Linked DNA regions of Homo sapiens: region 1 is linked to region 2. Evidence: fine-mapped expression QTL. A gene starts in region 2. The other region holds a variant in brackets. All regions are shown on one strand. Distances are from middle to middle.

Region 1 (11,549 bases), 520 kb before region 2:
GTCTTCAATCCATCTTGAGTCAATTTCTGTATGAGGCATAAGGAAGGGATCCAGTTTCAGCTTTCTGCATATGGCTAGCCAGTTTTCCCAACACCATTTATTAAATAGGGAATCCTTTCCCCATTGCTTGTTTTTGTCAAGTTTGTCAAAGATCTGATGGTTGTAGATGTGTGGCATGATTTCTGAGGCCTCTGTTCTGTTCCATTGGTCTATATATCTGTTTTGGTAGCAGTACCATGCTGTTTTGGTTACTGTAGCCTTGTAGCATAGTTTGAAGTCAGGTAGCGTGATGCCTCCAGCTTTGTTCTTTTTGCTTAGGGTTGTCTTGGCTATGTGGGCTCTTTTTTGGTTCCATATGAAATTTAAAGTAATTTTTTCCAATTCTGTGAAGAAAGTCAATGGTAGTTTGATGGGGATAGCATTGAATCTATAAATTAATTTGGGCAGTACAGCCATTTTCACGATATTGATTCTTCCTATCCATGAGCACGGAATGTTTTTCCATTTATCTGTGTCCTCTCTTATTTCCTTGTGCAGTGGTTTGTAGTTCTCCTTGAAGAGGTACTTCACAACCCTTGTAAATTGTATTCCTAGGTATTTTATTCTCTTTTTAGCAATTGTTAATGGGATTTCACTCATGACTTGGCTATTTGTCTGCTCTTAGTGTATAGGAATGCTTGTGATTTTTGCACATTGATTGTCTATCCTGAGACTTTGCTGAAGTTGTTTATCAGCTTAAGGAGATTTTGGGCTGAGACGAAAGGGTTTTCTAAATATACAATCATGTCATCTGCAAACAGAGACAATTTGAGTTCCTCTTTTCCTAATTTGAATACCCTTTATTTATTTCTCTTACCTGATTGCCCTGGCCAGAGCTTCCAACACTATGTTGAATAGGAGTGGTGAGAGAGGGCATCCTTGTCTTGTGCCAGTTTTCAAAGGGAATGCTTCCAGTTTTTGCCCATTCAGTATGATACTGGATGTGGGTTTGTCATAAATAGCTCTTATTATTTTGAGAGACATTCCATCAATACCTAGTTTATTGAGAGTTTTTAGCATGAAAGGCTGTTGAATTTTGTCTAAGGCCTTTACTGTATCTATTGAGATAATCATGTGGTTTTTGTCACTGGTTCTGTTTATGTGATGATGGATTACGTTTATTGATTTGTGTATGTTGAACCAGTCTTGCATCCCAGGGACGAAGCTGACTTGATCATGGTGGATAAGCTTTTTGATGTGCTGCTGGAATTGGCTTGCCAGTATTTTATTGAGGACTTTCACATCGATGTTCATCAGGGATATTGGCCTGAAATTTTCTTTTTTTCTTTTTTTTTAATTATACTTTAAGATTTAGGGTACATGTGCACAACGTGCACGTTAGTTACATATGTATACATGTGCCATGTTGGTGTGCTGCACCCATTAACTCAACATTTAACATTAGGTGTATCTCCTAATGCTATCCCGCCCCTCTCTCCCCACCCCACAACAGGCACTGGTGTGTGATGTTCCCCTTCCTGTGTCCATGTGTTCTCATTGTTCAATTCCCACCTATGAGTGAGAACATGCAGTGTTTGGTTTTTTGTCCTTGCGATAGTTTGCTGAGAATGATGGTTTCCAGCTTCATCCATGTCCCTACAAAGGACATGAACTCATCATTTTTTATGGCTGCATAGTATTCCATGATGTATATGTGCCACATTTTCTTAATCCAGTCTATCATTTTGAACATTCGGGTTGGTTCCAAGTCTTTGCTATTGTGAACAGTGCCGCAATAAACATATGTGTGCATGTGTCTTTATAGCAGCATGATTTATAATCCTTTGGGTTTATACCCAGTAATGGGATTGCTGGGTCAAATGGTATTTCTAGTTCTAGATCCCTGAGGAAGCACCACACCGACTTCCACAATGGTTGAACTAGTTTACAGTCCCACCAACAGTGTAAAAGTGTTCCTGTTTCTCCACATCCTCTCCAGCACCTGTTGTTTCCTGACTTTTTAATGATCGCCATTCTAACTGGTGTGAGATAGTATCTCATTGTGGTTTTGATTTTCTTTTTTATTGTGTCTCTGCCAGGTTTTGGTATCAGGATGATGCTGGTCTCATCAAATGAGTTAGGGATAGCTGTTGTTTAGAATAGTTTCAGAAGAAATGGTACCAGCTCGTTTTTGTACCTCTGGTAGCATTTGGCTGTGAATCCGTCTGGTCCTAGACTTTTTTTTTGGTTGGTAGGCTATTAATTGCTGCCTCAATTTCAGAACTTGTTACTGGTCTATTCAGGGATTCGACTTCTTCCTGGTTTAGTCTTGGGAGGGTGTATATGTCCAGGAACTTATCCATTTCTTCTAGATTTTCTAGTTTATTTGCATAGAAGTGTTTATAGTATTCTATGATGCTAGTTTTTATTTCTGTTGGATTGGTGTTGATATCCCCTTTATCATTTTTTATTCCATCTATTAGATTCTTCTATCTTTTCTTCTTTATAAGTCTGGCTAGTGGTCTATCAATTGTGTTGATCTTTTCAGAAATCCTGTTCCTGGATTCATTGAGTTTTTGAAGGGTTTTTTGTGTCTCTCTCTCTTTCAGTTCTGTTCTGATCTTACTTATTTCTTGACTTCTGCTAGCTTTTGAATTTGTTTGTTCCTGCTTCTCTAGTTCTTTTAAATGTGATGTTAGGGTGGCGATTTTAGATCTTTCCTGCTTTCTCTTGTGGGCATTTAGTACTATAAATTTCCCTCTACATACTGCTTTAAATGTGTCCCAAAGATTGTGGTACGTTGTGTCTTTGTTCTTGTTGGTCTCAAAGAACATCTTTATTTCTGCCTTCATTTCGTTATTTTCCCAGTAGTCATTCAGGAGCAGGTTGTTCAGTTTCCATGTAGTTGTGCAATTTTGAGTGAGTTTCTTAATCCTGAGTTCTAATTTGATTGCACTGTGGTCTGATAGACAGTTTGTTATGATTTCCGTTCTTTTGCATTTGCTGAGAAGTGTTTTACTTCCAATGATGTGGTCAACTTTAGAATAAGTGCAGTGTGGTGCTGAGAAGAATGTATATTCTGTTGATTTGGAGTGGAGAGATCTGTAGATGTCTATTAGGTCCACTTGTTCCAGAGATGAGTTCAAATCCTGGATATCCTTGTTAATATTCTGACTTGTTGATCTGTCTAATATTGACAGTGGTGTCTTAAAGTCTCCCACTATTATTGTGTGGGAGTCTAAGTATCTTTGTAGGTTTCTAAGAACTTGCTTTATGAATCTGGGTGCTCTTGTATTGGGTGCATATATTTTGGATAGTTAATTCTTCTTGTTGCATTGATCTCTTTACCATTATGTAATGCCCTTATTTGTCTCTTTTGAACTTTGTTGGTTTGAAGTCTGTTTTATCAGAGACTGGGATTGCAACCCCTGCATTTTTTTTTTTTTTTTTTTTGGCTTTCCATTTGCTTGGTAAATATTCCTCCATCCCTTTATTTTGAGCCTATGTGTGTCTTTGCACATGAGATGGGTCTCCTGCATACAGCACTCTGATGGGTCTTGATTCTTTATTCAATTTGCCAGTCTGTGTCTTTTAATTGGGGCAATTAGCCCATTTACATTTAAGGTTAATAGTGTTAGGTATGCATTTAATCCTGCCATTATGAAGCCTAGCTGATTATTTTGCCCACTAGTTGATGCAGTTTCTTCATAGCATCAATGTTCTTTACAATTTGGTATGAGTTTTTAACAAATAAATACTGGACTTTTTCAAATGTGTTTCTGCTTCTATTGCAATGCTGCCTAAATTTTCTCTTGAAGTCAAGTCTATGAATGTGTTGAATTAACTTGTTACATTTTCTTATGTTGAACCATCTATTTAGCATACATTTATGACCATAGCTTGTCTCCAGCTTTTCTCTGAGGTTACCCTGCCACATTTGACAGATGTGTTTTCTTGCCTCATGATAGAAAATGAGGAGAAAATTAGGCACTGTTTTGCCCTGATACATACAAAAAAGGGAAAATAGTTTAGCTGCAAAATTTTCCATTCAGATCATTCTCTGTCTTTGGCATCTAGTCTACATCTTCTTCAGGTTACAGGTATCTTTCTTAGGGTTTCTTCTGGGTTTTGTGTTAGTTTCTGATTGTGGTGATGAAATTCACATGATAGACTGTAATATTCTTCCCAATTCTTTGCTGTTTCCCCCAAGAGGTTTACACTTAAGACTTTGACATCATGCTAAATAATTTGACTTGTTTTATGCAATAAAATATGAGTGAATAAACCAAACTGGAATGATGATTAAACATGTGTCTAATTTATTTTTGTCATTTTAGGACACATGACAACATCTTAAATATATTAAAAAATTATTTTTAAAATTTGGATTGATGGCCATAAAAGGAAATAAGTCATACAAAGAAATAACCCTGGATCTAAAATGCTTATTATGTTGTAGTATTCTTCATGAACCATCAAATATTATGTCTCTTTCACCAGACCAACATTAAAATTTGATGTTTTGGCTCTCAATGTGTGGAAATCACCTACACACCTAAACTCACCCACGTTGTAAAATAATTTATTAGCAAGCATTTACAAAATCCAGATATTATGTGGAGTTGCATTATCTATTGAGAATTCAATTTTCAGGGATTTTTCAGGGTCTGAAATGATGCTGAATCTTGAAATATCTGCAACAAAAGGGACATACATGGCAGTGAAGGAGCCCCAACCACCTGCAGGAGTGTATCAATCCAGCTGCATATTGATATGATTAGACATAAGAGCTATTAAGTATCACAGATTTCAATCAGTGGAATAACTGTAAGAAAGGAAGAAGAAATTCTCTTTAGTGCAATATCTATAGAGGCCATTTCTTGTATATTTCACAAATCACAAGTTTCTTCATATTCCTTTATCTCATAATCCACATTCTAGCAATCTATTTTAGAATCGTTGGCGAATAGATGAAAAAGTGATAAATGACTTGGCATACCAGAGACATCTAAAAAT[G/T]GAATTCATTCTGGGAAGAAATACTAGGGAAAATAAAAGCTAATTCCAGTCTCTGAACTCAGAAAAGATCAGGAAATAAAGGCCTCACATGCATTTTAAATGTCAGGGGACAGGATAGGACTTAAATGATAAGCTCTTCCAGAAACCCCTGTCATTTCAAAGATGTAGGTAACTACTTTTCTCCCCTGTTATAGGAGATGGGACGTGCACTCTCCAGAGGAACTGAATGGAAGGGAGAGTAGCTTGCAGAATACCAAGCACTGATCCTCCTGCCTCACAGTGGCATGGTCCTTAGTTACCTCCTTTGCTATATTCTGCCCTTTTATTTAAACTTTTAACAATGAAAATCCATAGAGTTTCATCCACAAGTATCTTATGTTCTCTCTACACTCACATCCTGAATGATCTTTTCCAGTGTGTGGCTTTAAATCCATATGCATGCTGATGATATAGCTCTATGTCTCTGAATTCTTGATTGGTCTATCCAAATCTTTATTCAAACATCTCTACCCAGAATGTCTAAACAGCATCTTAAATTTCCAAAGTGAATTCTTTTCTTCTCCTCTTGCCCCCTCCCCAAAGCTCTGCTTTATTCACCTTCCTTTCAAACTAAGTAATAATTCTGTTCTTCTTGATATTCTGGCCAAAAATCTTGGATGAATCCTTGAGTTACCCCATGATCCGTCAGAAGCAATAGAAATCCATAAGGAAATCCTCTCGATTCTATCTCAAAATGTTTCCAGTATCCAGTCATTTTTCATCACCTCTCCAGCTACCTCCCCAGCCCAAGCCCCCATTTTCTCTTCTGGGTTATTGCAACAGTGTCCTAATGGTTCTTATACTTCGGTCCATCATCGCCTATTCACAACAGGGCAGCCACAGTTATTTTTGTGAATGCATGTCACTTTTCTGCTCAAAACTCCAATGGCTCTCCATCTCATTCAGAGAAAAAGCTAATCGGTGTCTTGCATATGTAACTCTATGTGATCTCCACTCCCTCCTCCCTCCATGACTTCCCCCTTGTTCATTTTGCTCCAGCACCACTGGTCTCCTTGGCTCCCCCAACCCGGCATATTCCACTTCAGATATTCACACTGGCTGCTTGACCTGCCTCTAAAGCTCAGATGGGAATTGTTCAGAGAGACCTACCTATTTTAAAATTCAATTCTTCCCCCACCCTTATACTCCTCATCCCTATACCTGGCATATATATATATTTATTTATTTATTTATTTATTTATTTATTTATTTTAGTAGCACTTACCACCTTCGAATGCACTATGTAATGTAGTTATTTATTTCTACCTTCCTCCAATAATATGTAAGCTCCATGAGCACAGGGACTTTTATCAATTACCAGAACTCACAATAATACCTGACATGCAATAGGGACTGTTTTCAAAAGAATAAATTAATTAAAAATAGAGAATAGGGAAGAATATGTACATGTGTCCCTTGGGGGGCTGGGCTAAGGAATAGGAGAGCTCAATCTTTATCCTTAACTGTAGGAGATATGATAGATAATATCTAATACTAGAAATTCAGAAATAATTATATAAGTACTTTATTTAGAAATAGGGAGATAAACACCTCTCTGGAAAAGCAATATTATATCTGCCTTTTGAAAGTCTAGGGTTTTTTGTCTTTATTTGTCATATAGAACTCTTTGAATCTGTAAACCATTTATTTTAATTACCTGATAAAATTTTTCAGTATAGAAAAGGGTTAATATTATATAAATTCATTATAAATAATTTATTAAGAATTATTAAAATTGATGTATAATTTTTTTATATTTATAAGATGTTATAAGTTTATTTAAAAATTTATATTTATTCATAAAGAATATAAATATTTTAGATATATTTTATTCACAACATTGAGCAGCATGTTACTGTTAATTGGGGGAAGGGTATACAAATCTAAAATGTAGATTTTAATTAACTAGTGTTCTGTTCAGTAAGTTTAAATATAGTCCTGGGAATATCGATTTGTAAATAAAGAAATGAGCAAATCACCTAAAATTTTACACACATGGGAATTCATTTAATATTTAATAGATTTTTCAGAGCTTTAGAGATCCTAGTTTATTCTTTACCCATTATTTTGTTAAATACCGTTGTTCCATGAAAGAAATAAAATGTTTCCATCATAATTCTGGATAAAATTGTATTCTAATATTATCCTCATTGGAAATAAAATATGTTAACTTGGACTATGCAAGTAATTCTGGCTGGATGACACACTGAAGTCATTTCTCTCATTGGCGTTGGAAGTTTACATTTCTAATTACCCTTAAATTGTTGGAGTAAACCAAGAGAACAATGCTTTGCTTAAATTCCAATTTGTAAAATCTTTCCTAAGCTTTTATGTTTCAAAAATAACCCTTTCTCTCCAATGCAACAAACATAAAAATTAATAAAAAATTGCAGCCACAGTTAAGTTTGGTATTATGAAGTGCTGCTTAGACCACTGTGAATGCTGAAGTTGAATGGCAATATGAGAGAATTTCCATGAACAAATATTGACTACTAATGCAGAATAAAGTTTTCTCATTCTCCAACCAAAACAATTAAAAAGGAAAATTATGTTTATTAAAAGCCTATTTATCTCTAGGCTTTTAGCCAAACCCTTTTGAAGATGATTTTCCCAATTGGAAAATTATCAGAAGCAAAATCCTTTCAAGAATACGGGATTTCAAAATTCATCAAATTAAATTATTCTTTATATATGATTTCTTTCTTAAACTCACAAAACCACTAATATGTGAAATATTACAAATGATGACCTATTGGTTATTGTCCTTTGGTTTAAGAAAAAAGGAGGAAATCCACTTATGGAAGAATTTACCTATGCATTTTTTAATACTAAGAAGTCAATTTTGCATCATCGGGCATATGCAGATAATAAGAGTTCTGTATATTTGAATATTTTGCTTAAGAGTATATATATATACATATACACACACACATATATATACTTACATATATATACACACACACTCTTAGTGTGTAAATATATGAGTGTATATATATATACTCAATGTGTGTATATATATGAGTATATATATATACACTTATATGGATATATATATACTTGAATACATGTATGTGTCTAAATACTATGTTCTAAGTAAGATCTTTAATGATCTCGATGTGTAGGGTCTTTGTTAAGAACAGTGCTCATGGGACTGCAAATATGGATGTACTAGAATTAATATTATGGCAAAAAGTTTAGTGATTGTGTTACTCTGATTAAATTGAAAGCATGTGAAATTAAGTGACATATCTCTAGTGGTCATTTTTTTGTCTTGCCAACAAGCTCCACCTAATAATTTAAAACTAACTTCGAGGAATTTTTATTTAGCTATTCATTCAAATAAGTTTTGAATTTAGTGTAGTAAGGTAAATAATTTATTATTTCTAGTGAGGTTCTATATTCCAACTTTGATTTCTATTGACAATTCATTTTACTTCGTTTTTGTCAAGACAGGTTATTATGCAGTTTACCAAGACTAAATAGAATATGAATTTTATTCTGAGTAAGTTTTTATAGGGCAATGTCTACTACAGAAGCACCTAGCTACATATGGCTATAAAAGCAATGAAATGTAGCTATTCCATATTGAGATATACTGTAAGTGTAAAGTATACAGCAGAATTTAAAGACATAATATAGAAAAAATAAGAATGTAAAAATCTCATCAATAATTTCTTTCTATCTTGAAATAATTTTTGTAAATATTGGGTGAAATAAATACATAATGTCATAATTAATCTCAACTACATGTTTTCCTTTTTAATGTTGCTTTTCAAAAATTTAAAATTATATATGTGACTTGCATTCCTGGCTCACAATACGTCTATGTTGGAAAGCAATGTATAAAGTTATTTTTTAAACTTCTATCTTTCTCTTACTAAATAGTATTAAACAGTGAGTTTGCAAGCTTTTAAAAGGCAATAAAGGGCTGGGCACAGTGGCTCACACCTGTAGTCCCAGCAATTTGAGAAGCTGAGGCAGGAGGATTGGTTGAGCTGAGGAGTTTAATACCAGTCTGGGCAATAGAACAAGACCTCATCTCCACCAAAAAAAAAAAAAAAATTGCTTGGTGTTGTGGCATACCTGTGTAATCCCAACTACTGGGGAGGCTGAGGTGGAAGGATCCCTTGAGCCCTGGAGGTTGAGGCTGCAGTCAACCATTATTGTGCCCTGCACTCCAGCCTGTGTCACAAAAAGAAAGACTCTGTTGAGGTACCCAGCCTAGAAGTAGTCCATCAACAAATATTAATATAATAAATAATATACAATTAAATGAACAGAAAAAAATTCCTTTAATATCTCTTTTCCTTTATTGTACAATTGATTCATTTGCCATGTTTGTAGGGAACCATTTTCAAAATGTCATACGTAATCAGTTATGCATAATCCAGAAATTAAAAGTTATAATTCAAATTTTATATGAATTTAATACAAATAAGGCTTAACTTCATTTTCATTCTACCTTATGTGTGATTATATCTAGAATGCTATTAAAATATATTGGTCTGATCATCTGGCTGGAAGTATGTTGTTGACTGGCAAATGGGAGAATTTTCCACCAGAAAAAAAGTTTCCATAAGATAGCACTAGTGTTGGAAAATGAAGGTGAAACAAAGCCTTCAAAGAAGTATAGAGCCAGCTCCCACAGTTAGATTCTACTTTGTCCAAATATGATTTTTCGTCTTACTGCCCTTAGCCATCAAATGGTCTTTTGACAGCCCTTACTCTGCCTGCTCCTGTATATTCTAGTCAAGAGAGTTGAAATGTCCTCTACTTCCAGGATGATATTAGCCTCCCCTGGTAATGGAACACTCTAATATTTTCCGCTAACTAACTAACTTATCAAGACAAATTGAAGCATTCACATAGCCTATTACAAATCTATTTAATTGAACTGTACATACTTAAAGTGATTTGTGTTTCAATGTTACAGAATGAATGTTTGTGTCCCTGCAAAATTCGTATGTTGAAATCCTAATTCCTAATGTGATGTTTCTTAGAGGTGGAGCCCTTCACAGGTAATTAGGATTAGATGTAATTCTAGGGGTGGGGCTCCCATGATTGGGATAATGCCCTTATAAAAAGATGAAAATATGTGAGATCTCTTTCTCTGCATGTACACACCAAGGAAAGGCCATGAGAAGGACACGGCCAGGAAGAAGACCCTCACCAATAACCTGACCATGGTGGCACCCTAATCTTGGATTTCCAGCCTCCAGAACTATATGACATACATGGCTGCTGTTCAAGCAGCCTCCAGAACTATATGACATACATGGCTGCTGTTCAAGCCACCCAGTCTATTTTATTTCATTATAGCAAACTGAATTGACCCATATGTACATTCAGTCTCCTTATTCTACTACCATGCTACAAATTCATATTTGTACATTCCATTGACCAAAGCCCAAGACACAAATAGAAGTCTTTTAGAAGTGGATAATGAAAGCTGAACCTAACAGAGAAGAAATGCACCCTGACTGTCCACCTGTGCCTCTCGTATGATGCAGACTCACCTTTTGAGCCTATACTTATTAGTCAGAATCTATTTCCTCTGCTTGTTGTTTTGTTTCCAACGGCCCTTGACTAGCCTGATGGCCAACAGGACAAAAGTAGCAAGAAAGGCTCACTGAATAGCACAGATTTGCTATGTATCAGTGTAGGAAAAAGCATGTTACTAAGTTTAATTGAGAAACTCAGCCAGTGTTCCCATGTAATCATAGTGAGAGAAACACAAATGAAAGCTCTTCTTTAAAAAAAAAAATGCATGTGTACTAAGAGCTAGACTCCCTTTTCCAAGGAAAGACCAGCCAGGTTGTAATGAAAACACCTTTAATCCTTCTCAGCTTAGGCTACAATCCTACAAAATATACAGTATATCTGCTTGGAAAAAAATAAACTTTTTGTAGCCAGAGGCAAGATCTCATATAAGTTGCAAAGTGATTGGAAGGCTTTTGGCTTGGTTTGGATTTCTGGTCCTTTACCTGAGTTGTTAATTGAATTAGATTTTTGGCAGAGACCATGAGCAAAGAAATGACAATCAGATCCCAGATCTCAAAACTTCATGGGCAAAGATGACCAATTATTGCAAGGAGACACCACCTCAGACTCTAATTAGTTATGGAAGTTTGTGAGCAAGGTAAGGAATAGAGCATTTCCAAAGATGGAATGAAGGCATTATCATGAACATGGTCATGTTCAGTACATATATTTTAAGTGTTTATTTCTGTAGAATCAGCATGAGAAACATATTCTCATGGTTGTTTTATTTTTCAACTAACTTCAAATCCAAAGATATAAGACAAATTTTGAAGAACTTGACCATTAGGTGAATCAAGAGTAAACTATTTGCAATCCATAGCTTTTTCCAAGTCAATAGAAATTTTCCCATGATACTTGGATTTATCAGTGCTCATAGTTTTTGGTACAGCAGTGTACTTTAAGTTATACTCAAAGGTTCCAATGATGATCAGAATTCTTCTCCTTTTTATTTGCCTCTTCTCAACTACATACCC
Region 2 (11,549 bases):
GTAGATCACATGATTCCCTTCCTTGAAGCCAAACAGTTCTGGCTTCAGAGTCTTAGAAGAATATTGCAAGACAAGAAGAATCTGCTGCCCCATGGTGTTTGGTTTTCCCCCCAAGAGATCATTAGTAACCCAGTTTGTTCTCAGCTGCCCTAAAGATATAATTTTAATTGGTTTATATTAGCACTAGGTATATGTTTAAGGCTCAATAAATGTTAAATGAACTATTAGTATTTCATTGGATATAAACCATAAGATGGAAATGAAAGATTTTCACCATTTCTGGTCATTATTCACCCAGGTTTACCTTTTCTTTCTCTGTAACTCAGCAACCTTCCCATTATCCAGGCACCTGGCAGAGCTACTGTTGTTAAATTTCTGACAGCTTTTTCATTACAGGCCCTGTTTTTCAAGAGGCAGGTTAACTAAGCGATTTTGATTTGTGCCAAGCTGAGATGTGGAATAGACACTTGAAGTCCATTCTCCTGTTTTCCTAAGATTTTATTTGAAGTTATTTGTCCTACTTTGATCTAAAAAATACTAAGAAAAAACTAAAATTCACCTATTATTTTCATTCATGATTTTTATAACTGAGCAAAAGGATGATAAATTCTGCTGTAGCTCTGCTTTTTATTTTTTTTATAAACCCAAGGCTTTTAAAAAATTAACACAAGACATTTCATACTTCAGAGTTATTATTTGATTCAGAAACATATTAACAGCCAATTGTTTTACTTACATGAGATAGGGTAAGACCTTTTTATTTTGTAAAACATGAACCAAATGCTATAATTTGTATTTATGTTAAACGTGTGACATATTCATGTCAAAACAATATTTTTTGTCTCATAACCAAGGACTCATCTTTACTGTAGAAAACATGAAAAATGCAGATAAGAGAAAAAAAATTTAAAATCAACCAACCCAGTAAGATCATATTGGATTTCATTCTCTTTTTATGTCCACTCATTCTTCCCTGAAGTTTTAGAAACTTCTGGAAAGCATTCCTGACTACCTCTCTGCCCCTTCCACATACAGTTACCACATTCTAATCAGTTTTACCTGGTATTTCCATATTCTTTCCACCTACTTCACACACGATTCCATGTGGTTTAGCATCCACCCAGTTTACTATACTAAAATGTTTCTCTCAAAATTTCCAGTAAGCTTCCTTATCATTGTCCAAGTACCATTATCTCCATCTCTTTCTTGTCCACTGCAATTTGTTTTATGTTTGAAAATCTCCTCACCTGGGTTCCACGATGCTACCTAATGTTTTTGTTCTCTTCTTACCTTTGCAACTATTCACTGTCTCTTGCCTTTAAATTTTCTTATTATTCATTGAGTTTGGTGTATAGGTTAAGTTGCTTTTACTTGTAAACAGTAGAATAACCAACTAACAATGGTGTAAACAACAGGATATTTATTGATTATTTAACAAGAAGTCCAGAAGTTGGAAGTCCTAAGGCTGGTTTGGTGACTCAAATAGGAACTCAAGGTTCTTTGCATCCCTCCATTGTCATTGTCTGTCTTCTAGCAATGTCTTGTCTCTTACGCAAAAGATGGCTGTGTAGCTCTAAGAAGGCAGGAGGCTGAGGCAAAATGGCCCTTCTGCTCCTTTAATCAGGGAAAACACTTTTTTTTTTTTTTTTTTTTTCAGAAATCTCCATAAATCACATTGGCTAGAAATGGGTCTTACACCCACCCCTACACCAGGGAAAAGTGCTAATTGTGATTCATCCCTTGGTGGTGAGCACAATGCCCCCTGACATAATCAGTCTTAGAGAAGCAAAAAAGAAAGGGCGATGGCTGTGGGATATGTGACTGACAGGGGCTGCACGACTCGTCTGTCACCTATGGCTGCTCTTCAAGACTGTGTCTATTTTTCTCTACAACTGAAAGTCTCTGAGGTTCCATTCATGTGATGCCCAAAACGGGTTGTTGTGAAAACCAGCTGGGATGTGAAAGTACTGTATAAACAGGAGTTGTATTGTCTTTTATTAAACGTACCATATTTTCCTAATGAGATGCAATCTTTTTTTTGTCTTGTTTTTGTTGTTGTTTGTTTTGTTTTTTTTGAGACAGAGTCTCACTCTTTCTCCCAGGCTGGAGTGCAGTGGCGTGATCTCTGCTCACTGTTACCTCCACCTCCAGAGTTCAAAGGATTCTCCTGCTTTAGCCTCCCAAGTAGCTGGGACTGCAGGCACATACCATCACACCAGCGAATTTTTTGTATTTTTAGTAGAGAAGGGGTTTCGCCATGTTGGCTAGCCTGGTCTCTAACTCCGAAGCTCAGGCAAGCCACTCTCCTTAGCGTCCCAAAGTGGTAGGATTACAGGCGTGAGCCACCACACCCAGCAGAGACACAATCTTAAAATAAATATTTAGTAATTCTTCTTGTGTATTGAACCAAGCACCAACTCCTGCCAATCCTTTCCTCAGAATCTATCTACATCTTTCCATTTTCCATCGTCCTATTCTAGGTATCCGTTTACCTCATGCTATTTGTTTGCTTTTTTTTTTTTTTTTTTTTTGAGACGGAGTCTCCCTCTGTCACCCAGGCTGGGGTGCAGTGGCGGGATCTCGGCTCACTGCAAGCTCCGCCTCCCGGGTTCTCGCCATTCTCCTGCCTCAGCCTCCTGAGTAGCTGGGACTGCAGTGCCGGCCACCACACCCGTCTAATTTTTTGTATTTTTAGTAGAGACGGGGTTTCACCGTGTTAGCCAGGATAGTCTCGATCTCCTGACCTCGTGATCTGCCCGCCTCGGCCTCCCAAAGTGCTGGGATTACAGGCGTGAGCCACCGCGCCCGGCCTTTTTTTTTTTTTTGAGACGGAGTTTCTTTCTTGTTGCCCAGTCTGGAGTGCAATGGCACGATCTCGCCTCACCGCAACCTCTGCCTCCCAGGTTCAAGTGATTCTCCTGCCTCAACCTCCCGAGGAGCTGAGATTACAGGCACGTGCCAGCACGCCCAGCTAATTTTGTATCTTCAGTAGAGACGGGGTTTCTCCATGTTGGTCAAGCTCGTCTCAAACTCCCGACCTCAGGTGATCTGCCTGCCTCGGCCTTCCAAAGTGCTGGGATTATAGGCATGAGCCACCGTGCCTGGCCTCGTTTGCTTCCTCTTGTATGGCATTTATCCATATTCTTTTTTCCTACTACACACAAGATGAATACTACAGCTAGGATTCCAGCCATTAGCTGACCTTTTTGTCTAAACCAGATGCCTGCTCCTCCATATGACCTCTCTCCTGTCTGGTCAGGCCTCTTCCAGGAACTTCCATAACATTCCATTCTCATTCCAATCCCTTGTCTAGGCTCCTGCTGTGGCTCTCAGTGTTAACTGGAATGTTTGACTTTGTCTCTTACACCACTGCAAACAGTGTGACATTACTCAACAAATGGACCAGGCAGGGTTAAGGTCACCAGTAAAGCAAGTTATCTAATTCTTTGGTCTGACTTGAGTTCACAAACCTACCCTAAACTATTTGACTCTCCTGATGGAATTAAACTAATCTATTTAGTCATTCGTCTCATGTAATATCTTTGCCACAAATCCTAAGATCATTTTATAAGTATAGGGACGGTGTGCAATAGTCTAGTGCTATAAAGTTGTATTGAGTGCTCATTCAATACTTAACAATTAGCTGATCTTCAAATAATTTAAAACCACATATACTATGCTTTTACCCATTCTTCCTTTACCTCCATTTAAAATAATGAATTATCTGCTATACTGAGTCAGGGTAAATTACAATGAGTCCCAGGATAAGGTGGTAGGACAGGAAGTGTGTGTTTTTACCCTCTTCCTCTGGAGTGCATAATGCTTTACTATGATACAAAGAGAAGTTTGAAGGAAGTCACGTTGTCAAATATGACAGAAGTAATAACTTGACTGCAATTCCTGAGCCTATCAACCTCACCGTTTGTCCACAAACATAACCAGAATATATTTTATCTTGATTTCCGACTTGAGGGAAAATAAGTTCAGTGATTTAAGATCTGCCAGTTAGCATAAATATTGTGAAAGCAAAAAACTGTGCTAAAATTTTAAGAGAAAAAAAGTTAAGTGTGTTGCGTTTTCAGAAAGATTTAGCTATGGAGTTTTTTTTTTTGTTTTGTTTTGTTTTTTTTTTTTTTGGTTTTGTTTTGTCTTGACCTATGAGTTTGAAGAAGACAAAGTGGCTCTGTAAATAAGTCGACTTCATTTTTAAAGCGTTTGGAAAGGTTAAATGAGGTTGAATCTTGAGAGTCTTTTTGGTGGTTAGGAGAGGGGGAATTTATTAAAGAGAGGAAGACAATGTACCTAATATGTTGTGATGATAATGACAAACTCAAAGATTTAAACTTCATGAGTCATTCTGGTCATTCATATCATCATCAGGAAAACATCTTCATGTGTAGCTTCATAGGTGAGCTCCACAAAACTGTGCATTACCTTGTAGTAGTTTGTGAATAATGTGCTGACCTATGACACATAGCCACGTAAGTGAATAAACACTATTATTATTATTATTTTGTCTTGGTTTTCATTAAACTATCTTAGTAGTTTCAGGAGCTCTGGGTTTCAACACACACTTCTGCCAGCTGACTTTAGTGCGTCCATTAGCATAACAAAGTCAATTAGGCAAACCTGAATTTTCACTTTTATCCCGTTCACAGAACATCAGTGTAAATGGAGACAGGAAGAAGAAATTGGATTGATTCTCCACTTGAGAATTATGTTAACTTGGAAGAAAATGTTAAGTCTACTATGTGAGGGCATCTAGTGAGAGGGAAGGAATCACCTCCCTTCCCCCATTATGTCCCTTTATGCACCTCTGACCCTTGTGCTCTCCTTTTCTTGTTGCTTCTGTGGTCTGGTTGTTAGCTTTCCCGATCCTCCACACATTAGAAACCTAAGCATAATGATTTCTGATCGAAGGCTATGAGATATTTGAAATAAAAAAAGGGGAAATTGTTGAGTCTAGAACCAAACCTTTAAAAATTAAGAACTACCAGTCTGTAATGTGTGCCTTTAGAAAAAAACAAAGTCAAACAGAAATTAGGCAACTAGTTAGAGCCGTGATTGTGCTCTGCCACCCATGAACTCCCGTCTATGACTATTTCCACTCTGGCTTTGTGTTTCAGTAGGTCAGGGACACATATTAAGAGCAACAATTGGAACTGCGTTATCCTTTACCTCCATAAAAATACAGCTTAATAACATGTTAATGACTTAAAATTACCTTGTCTTTCTAGATTGTTTATTGATGTCATTTCAGATCGGTATAAAGGATGTGAAGTGAATAAGAAAATAGGTACGTTTCTTTTTCTTTTTTTCCCCTTTCTACCGACTAGGAAGAGATCCAGTCCAGGTTTTGCCTTTGACTCGGCCTGTGAATTTCGGCTGTGCAATGTGTAGCACGTTTCTTTCTCCCCCCTCCTTTCTCCTTCCCTCTTGCCTCCAGTGACTGTCTCCAGGATTTCTCTCTTCCTATTTCAGGAGGACTCTCACAGGCTCCCACAGCCTGTGTTAAGCTGAGGTTTCCCCTAGATCTCGTATATCCCCAACACATACCTCCACGCACACACATCCCCAAGAACCTCGAGCTCACACCAACAGACACACGCGCGCATACACACTCGCTCTCGCTTGTCCATCTCCCTCCCGGGGGAGCCGGCGCGCGCTCCCACCTTTGCCGCACACTCCGGCGAGCCGAGCCCGCAGCGCTCCAGGATTCTGCGGCTCGGAACTCGGATTGCAGCTCTGAACCCCCATGGTGGTTTTTTAAACACTTCTTTTCCTTCTCTTCCTCGTTTTGATTGCACCGTTTCCATCTGGGGGCTAGAGGAGCAAGGCAGCAGCCTTCCCAGCCAGCCCTTGTTGGCTTGCCATCGTCCATCTGGCTTATAAAAGTTTGCTGAGCGCAGTCCAGAGGGCTGCGCTGCTCGTCCCCTCGGCTGGCAGAAGGGGGTGACGCTGGGCAGCGGCGAGGAGCGCGCCGCTGCCTCTGGCGGGCTTTCGGCTTGAGGGGCAAGGTGAAGAGCGCACCGGCCGTGGGGTTTACCGAGCTGGATTTGTATGTTGCACCATGCCTTCTTGGATCGGGGCTGTGATTCTTCCCCTCTTGGGGCTGCTGCTCTCCCTCCCCGCCGGGGCGGATGTGAAGGCTCGGAGCTGCGGAGAGGTCCGCCAGGCGTACGGTGCCAAGGGATTCAGCCTGGCGGACATCCCCTACCAGGAGATCGCAGGTAAGCGCGGGCGCGCTGCAGGGGCAGGCTGCAGCCCTCGGCTGCCGCACGTCCCACTGGCCGCCCGGCGTCCCCTTCCTTCCCCCTGTTGCTGAGTTGGTGCTCACTTTCTGCCACCGCTATGGGACTCCGCGTCTCCGTGTTGGGCGGCGGATGCTCCTGCGGCTTCTTCGGCGGGGGAAGGTGTGCGTCTCCGCCGCCTCATTGTGTGCACACGCGGGAGCACCCTGGCTCCCGCCTCCCGCTGCTCTCGCGCCCTTCTACCCCTTAGTTGATGGCTCAGGCCCGGCTGGCCAGGGAGCCCGGGTCACTCCGGGGCGGCTGCAAGGCGCAGACGGAGAGCCGAGCCGGGCGCTCACTCCGCGTTCTGGTTCGGGCAAACTTGGAAGAACTGCGACCGCAGTTTGCCCAGCGCCACAGTCTGAGTGGCGCCTTCTCCACTCCCGCCCTTGCGCCGGCAGGGGCGGTGGAGAGACGCGGAGGGCTCCCCCAGCCCCTCTCTCCCCTATCCGTCCTTCGGGCGACAGAGCGCCCGGCGCTCGGGCCGGGGGCGGGCAAGGCTGGGAGGGACCCTCGCCGGGGACCTGGCCTCTGGACGCCGGCGTTTCAAGGCTGGTTTGGGGACTTCACGGGCTGCCTGTTTCAGATGTGGGGCGGGCTTTCCCGTTAGGGTTCCTCAGTGCTTCCCCAGTTGCTGTTGGCCACTCAGGGCCCGGGGACACCCTGCCACCCGGTCTGGAGCCGGCCTCGTCTGCCAGCGAACAGCCAACTTTAGCGGGTGGCTCAGCTGGGGATTCGGGTCCGGGTTCGGGGGCCCCGTGTCCCCCGCATGCCCGGCCACTGGCATTGCTCCACCAAGAGCTTGAGAGCGCCCACCCTTTCTCTCGGCGCCAGTGTGTGTAGCACTTGGTCTCCGACAACTTGCGCGGCAGTCTGGGTGCTTGTTTTCCGGCTCTTAGCTCCAACCGAATCCGAGCTTCTCTGGGGCTCTGTGAATGAAACGTGTCGGGGAGAGATAATCCTTTGGCTGCTAAAGAACAGAACTGAGAGAGGCCGAGGGAGGCCAGGAGATGCTGCGAGGGCGCGGGCTGCTCAAACCGGGCAGCTGAAGTCCTTAGTGACCTCAGATCGTCAAGTCAAAACGCTGAATTTCCACCAGCCTCTGTCTGCTTTTTGCCAAATAACTGGTGGATGGATGAAAAGCATTTTGCAGATATCTTAGAACATCACAGTTTCGATACGTTGAGGAATTACTATTTTCTTATGATTTTCAAGCTGTAGAAGTGAGGGTTTTTACTTACACTGAAATGAACACATTTAAATAAATTTGAGCATTGGCAAAGGGGGAAAAAAAGAGGCGCAAATTACCACGCTCATTATATAGAAGGAGCTTTTTCAGTTCAGAGCCAGACATTCCCTTTGCTGAGTCTAAGTTAGAATCTGTGGTGAATTATAAGCCTACTTTTCTATCCTTGTTACTTCTTCCTTCTTTTCCAGAACTCCTTAATTTGTTAATCAATGAATAGAGAGCGACTGTCCCCACAGCTCCTTAAGTTTCTTAACTCTCCTTCTCCTTTGTCTACTGTTATTTCATTCTTTTTAATTAATTGATAAGGATCAGCTTCGCTTTTTTTTTTCCCTCCCCAAATCTCAGGGAATTCAACTTTTTAAAAGGTTTATAGTATGGATCACTTCTTCTAGGAACTTTTTCTCCTTTAATCTGGGCTTTTTCAAACGGTATCTTTTAAGCACACAAGATATTTCCCAACATGATTTCAGATAAGATGTCTCAAAGAAGAAAATAGTTAGGTATTTTTAAATTGCTTCGGTATTCTTTAGAGGATAATGGGACTCTCAGGAGACTAGAGTTCATCCTCAGCATCAGGCACATCTCTTTAATATCAAAGTGAAGATTTTCAGTGTAAAACAATTTCTGTAGTCACCATGAATGTTTGTTGAGAACATTCCCAGGGGTTCATGTAAATTCTTCGGTGGATATTTAACTAAAGAGGTTTTTGTTTTTGTTTTTGGTTTCCTCCCCACCTTTTTACAATTACAGTGTTTGCTTATTAGCTATGAATTTCTAAAATGTGTGCACTTTTTTTTTTTTAAACTCACCTACTTTCCATGAGTAAGGGCATACTGTTAACTTTGCTTTAAGCCTTGTGTCCTTTGATGCTGGTAGACATAATCAAGATGCAGGTCACCACAGGGTCAGAGGCACATTTAATAGGAAAATAATGAATTGAAAGATAATTGTGTTTTTTAAGGATATACTTGTTTTTTCAAAATCAACTTTACTTAATGCTACCTATTGCTGTTTTAATAATCACTTAGGAAATATACCCTGTTGTTACAGGAACACACTCTATCTCTCCTCCCTAGTTCTTGATACTGTTTACATTTAATTATCTAGTGTAAGTGGTTATCTTTTCTTAAACTCTTTTTTATCCTTTGCCTTGATTGGGCATCTAATGGTTTGCTTGAAGAATTTCATGTGTCTTCAATCTGCCAGGGCACATAAATTTAAAAGAATTGCTGTTCAGACTTCAGATTCATGACAGCTGTTTCTAATTGAAAGCTATTTGCAGGTAGCTTGCTTAGTGAAATAACTTGAGAAGTAATAAGGACATTATGTTTCATCATGACATTATCAAAGTTTTACTCAGAACTCACAATTGTGAAATAGTGTTGCCCTTTTCTATTCTAGGATAGAATGGAAACCCAACAGATGAGGAAGTATCACAGGTAATATATAAAGTTATGCTTTCAGAGAATGCTTGGGAAGGAGGAGGCCTTCAAGGGGCAGTTTGCACCATCAGTTTTCACTCAGCACTGATTTTAAACCATGGCAAGGAGATCAGATAGACTATTTATCCTTGTTTGAAAAACTTCCAAAGGAGTAGACTCTTGATCCCCTTTCAGCAATCCATTCTAATATTTAGCAATTCTTGTGGTATAGAAATGTTTCCAGATATCTAGCCAAAAGCCTTCACAATATGCTTGCTTATTTTTTCTTGTTCTATCCTCTGGGAAGATACTGAGCAGTGAATCATCAGGTTCTTTGTTAGGAGAGTTACTCTCATCAAAGGTCAGTGTGAAACATTCTAGTCTTTCCTCATTCATCAGAATTATGACCTAAGTTTCCAATCCTCCTCATGTTGGTGGCTCTAAACTTCTAAAGGAACTCTACCACTGAAAATAGCACCTGCTTAAAACTCTGGGAAATTCAGAGAATGTTGTTTCAGGCTTACTCTGCCACTGTTTTATGCCTTGAGTCTTGCTAGGATCATTAATTATAACACTTTGTAGTTAACAGTGACTTATTGGCCTACATGATCATGTTTTCATTACTTATGTAATGTGACATTATTTAACAATCTCTTATATAGAATTTACTATGTGCCCATCACCTACTTAAAAATTATTACCTTTATAATATCACCTTACTGAATTCTTCCAATAACTTAGTAGATACTACACATTAACCCCATTTTATAGATAAAAAGGCTGTGTGACAGGAACTTTAATAAACTTACCTAAGGGTGACTCTACTAGTAAGTAATGAGGCTGCAGTTCAAACCCAGGCACTCTGACTCCAGGGTCTATATACCTAACTTGGCTCACTGCCTTACAGTATTAAACATTCACCATTTATTTTGAATGAATGCATGCAAAATCTATTCTTTCCTCATTTCATATATATATATATACGTATATATATATATACATATATATATATACGTATATATATATATATATACATATATATATATATATGTATATATATATATATATATATATATACGTATATATATATATATAGTCTGGTATTATTAATCACTATATACATATATGTATCCCTTCCAGTTTTGCATGCTAAATACGTTTCTATTTTGTTCCAACGTCTCTAATTCTCAATATCACTTTGACTTTGGATTTTGTATTCTCAGGAATTGGCCATGCTACCACCATTAAATGGTTCATGCGTTTATGCCTTTTTCTGAACGTTTTCTGGCAAGATATAGTTACATAAAACACAGAAACTAAAGTACATGTCTTGGTTTCTTTCAGTATACTAGGCCTATTGAAATATTGGGTTAGTCCAACAAAGCTCATGCTGGAAAGTTATTCATGGGGCTAGAGGGAGTAAGAACATTTATCTCCACAGATTAGAAAAAAAAATGTAACTAGCTCTGTTTTCAGTATTTATTTTGCAACTTTTTCTGTCCCAGGTATTTTGAGAGTTGGGTTACAGCTGGATATTAAAAAAGCACTAAAGTCTTCATCTATTTGATATTAATTTATCAAGTATTTATCTAAAAATCTACAGTTTAAAAAGATTATTTGCTTGTTTCAAAATACATAATGTTTCCTTTTCACTGATCTTTGCCCAGTGGGCGTTTCCTTTCTCTGGAAACCTGTCTTTCTGTCTGCTCCCCCGGCAAACCAACTAATTTAATACATTTACAATTTACACAACTTTTTTTTTTTTTTCCAGTTTCCATGGAGATATCACATTAACTTAAATGGAAAACAGTGTTTGGTAACTCTTACTCTTTAAAGCCACAGTAAATATCGTAGTTTGAGATAAATTGTTTAATTTCTGTTTATCTGCCTGGTTCAAAGATTTCTTATTTCTTTGCCCCCTGTTTAGTTAGCTGATTTCTTTAAAAGTTTTTGGAAGGACAGTGTAAGTCACAAATGAGTGAGGTGAACTTCAATTTTTGTTTTTGTAATGATTCTACAAGTCACTAGATTTCTAAAAGAATCACATTAATTCCAGGTATCAAAGCAATCTAAAAGTTGGGCTATTAGAAGCGTCACTTGTTAAACTCTTGATTTGGGCATTAATTTTAGAGCGATTGTGAGTTATCTTAGCTGATTTAATTAGAGGATAATATGTCATCATTGGGAACAAGAGTTCATTTGAGTTGACTGATATACTTTTTTACATAAAATATCTCTCAACTGCATTGTATCTTAATAATAGCTTGTGAGTAGAAATATAGGCCACTGTCAAAATTGATTTAAAATGTACAGCATTATGTTCTTTAAGTATTATGGCATAAAGATTGTGCCATAAATTATGTAAGAAAGTGACTAGTGTTCTTTTAAAATTATGGATGAAATTTACGAACACTTATAAAACACAAAATTATTGAGTAGTTCTAACCTAAAATGACCTAACTTCAATCACTAGTTTTGTATAGAAATCTGAGTTTAGGGTAAACATTATAATAAATTAATTGCTTTAAAAATGATTTTAATCTTTTGATCTTATATTGAAACCCACAAAAATAACAGTATAAGAACAAC

Evidence for each region.
Region 1: its variant is fine-mapped to the expression of GPC6 in aorta (GTEx, PIP above 0.99). The same link has a PIP of 0.9 or more in lung.

Annotation. Positions count from the first base shown.
Region 1 is chr13:92,696,844-92,708,392 of GRCh38, forward strand. All of the region lies in intron 7 of GPC5 (glypican 5), which reads left to right. GPC5-AS1 (GPC5 antisense RNA 1) reads right to left here. Exons shown (of 4, transcript NR_046520.1): 3 at 9,118-9,216; 4 at 4,546-4,673. Among named protein-coding and RNA genes, the nearest start is that of GPC5-AS1, 19 kb to the right of the region's middle. The variant G/T (reference allele first, on the strand shown) is at 4,996.
Region 2 is chr13:93,221,387-93,232,935 of GRCh38, forward strand. It overlaps GPC6 (glypican 6), which reads left to right and starts at 5,421. Exons shown (of 9, transcript NM_005708.5): 1 at 5,421-6,230. The coding sequence starts at 6,071. RefSeq lists silencers at 2,505-2,690, 6,910-7,204 and enhancers at 2,657-3,607, 6,014-6,856.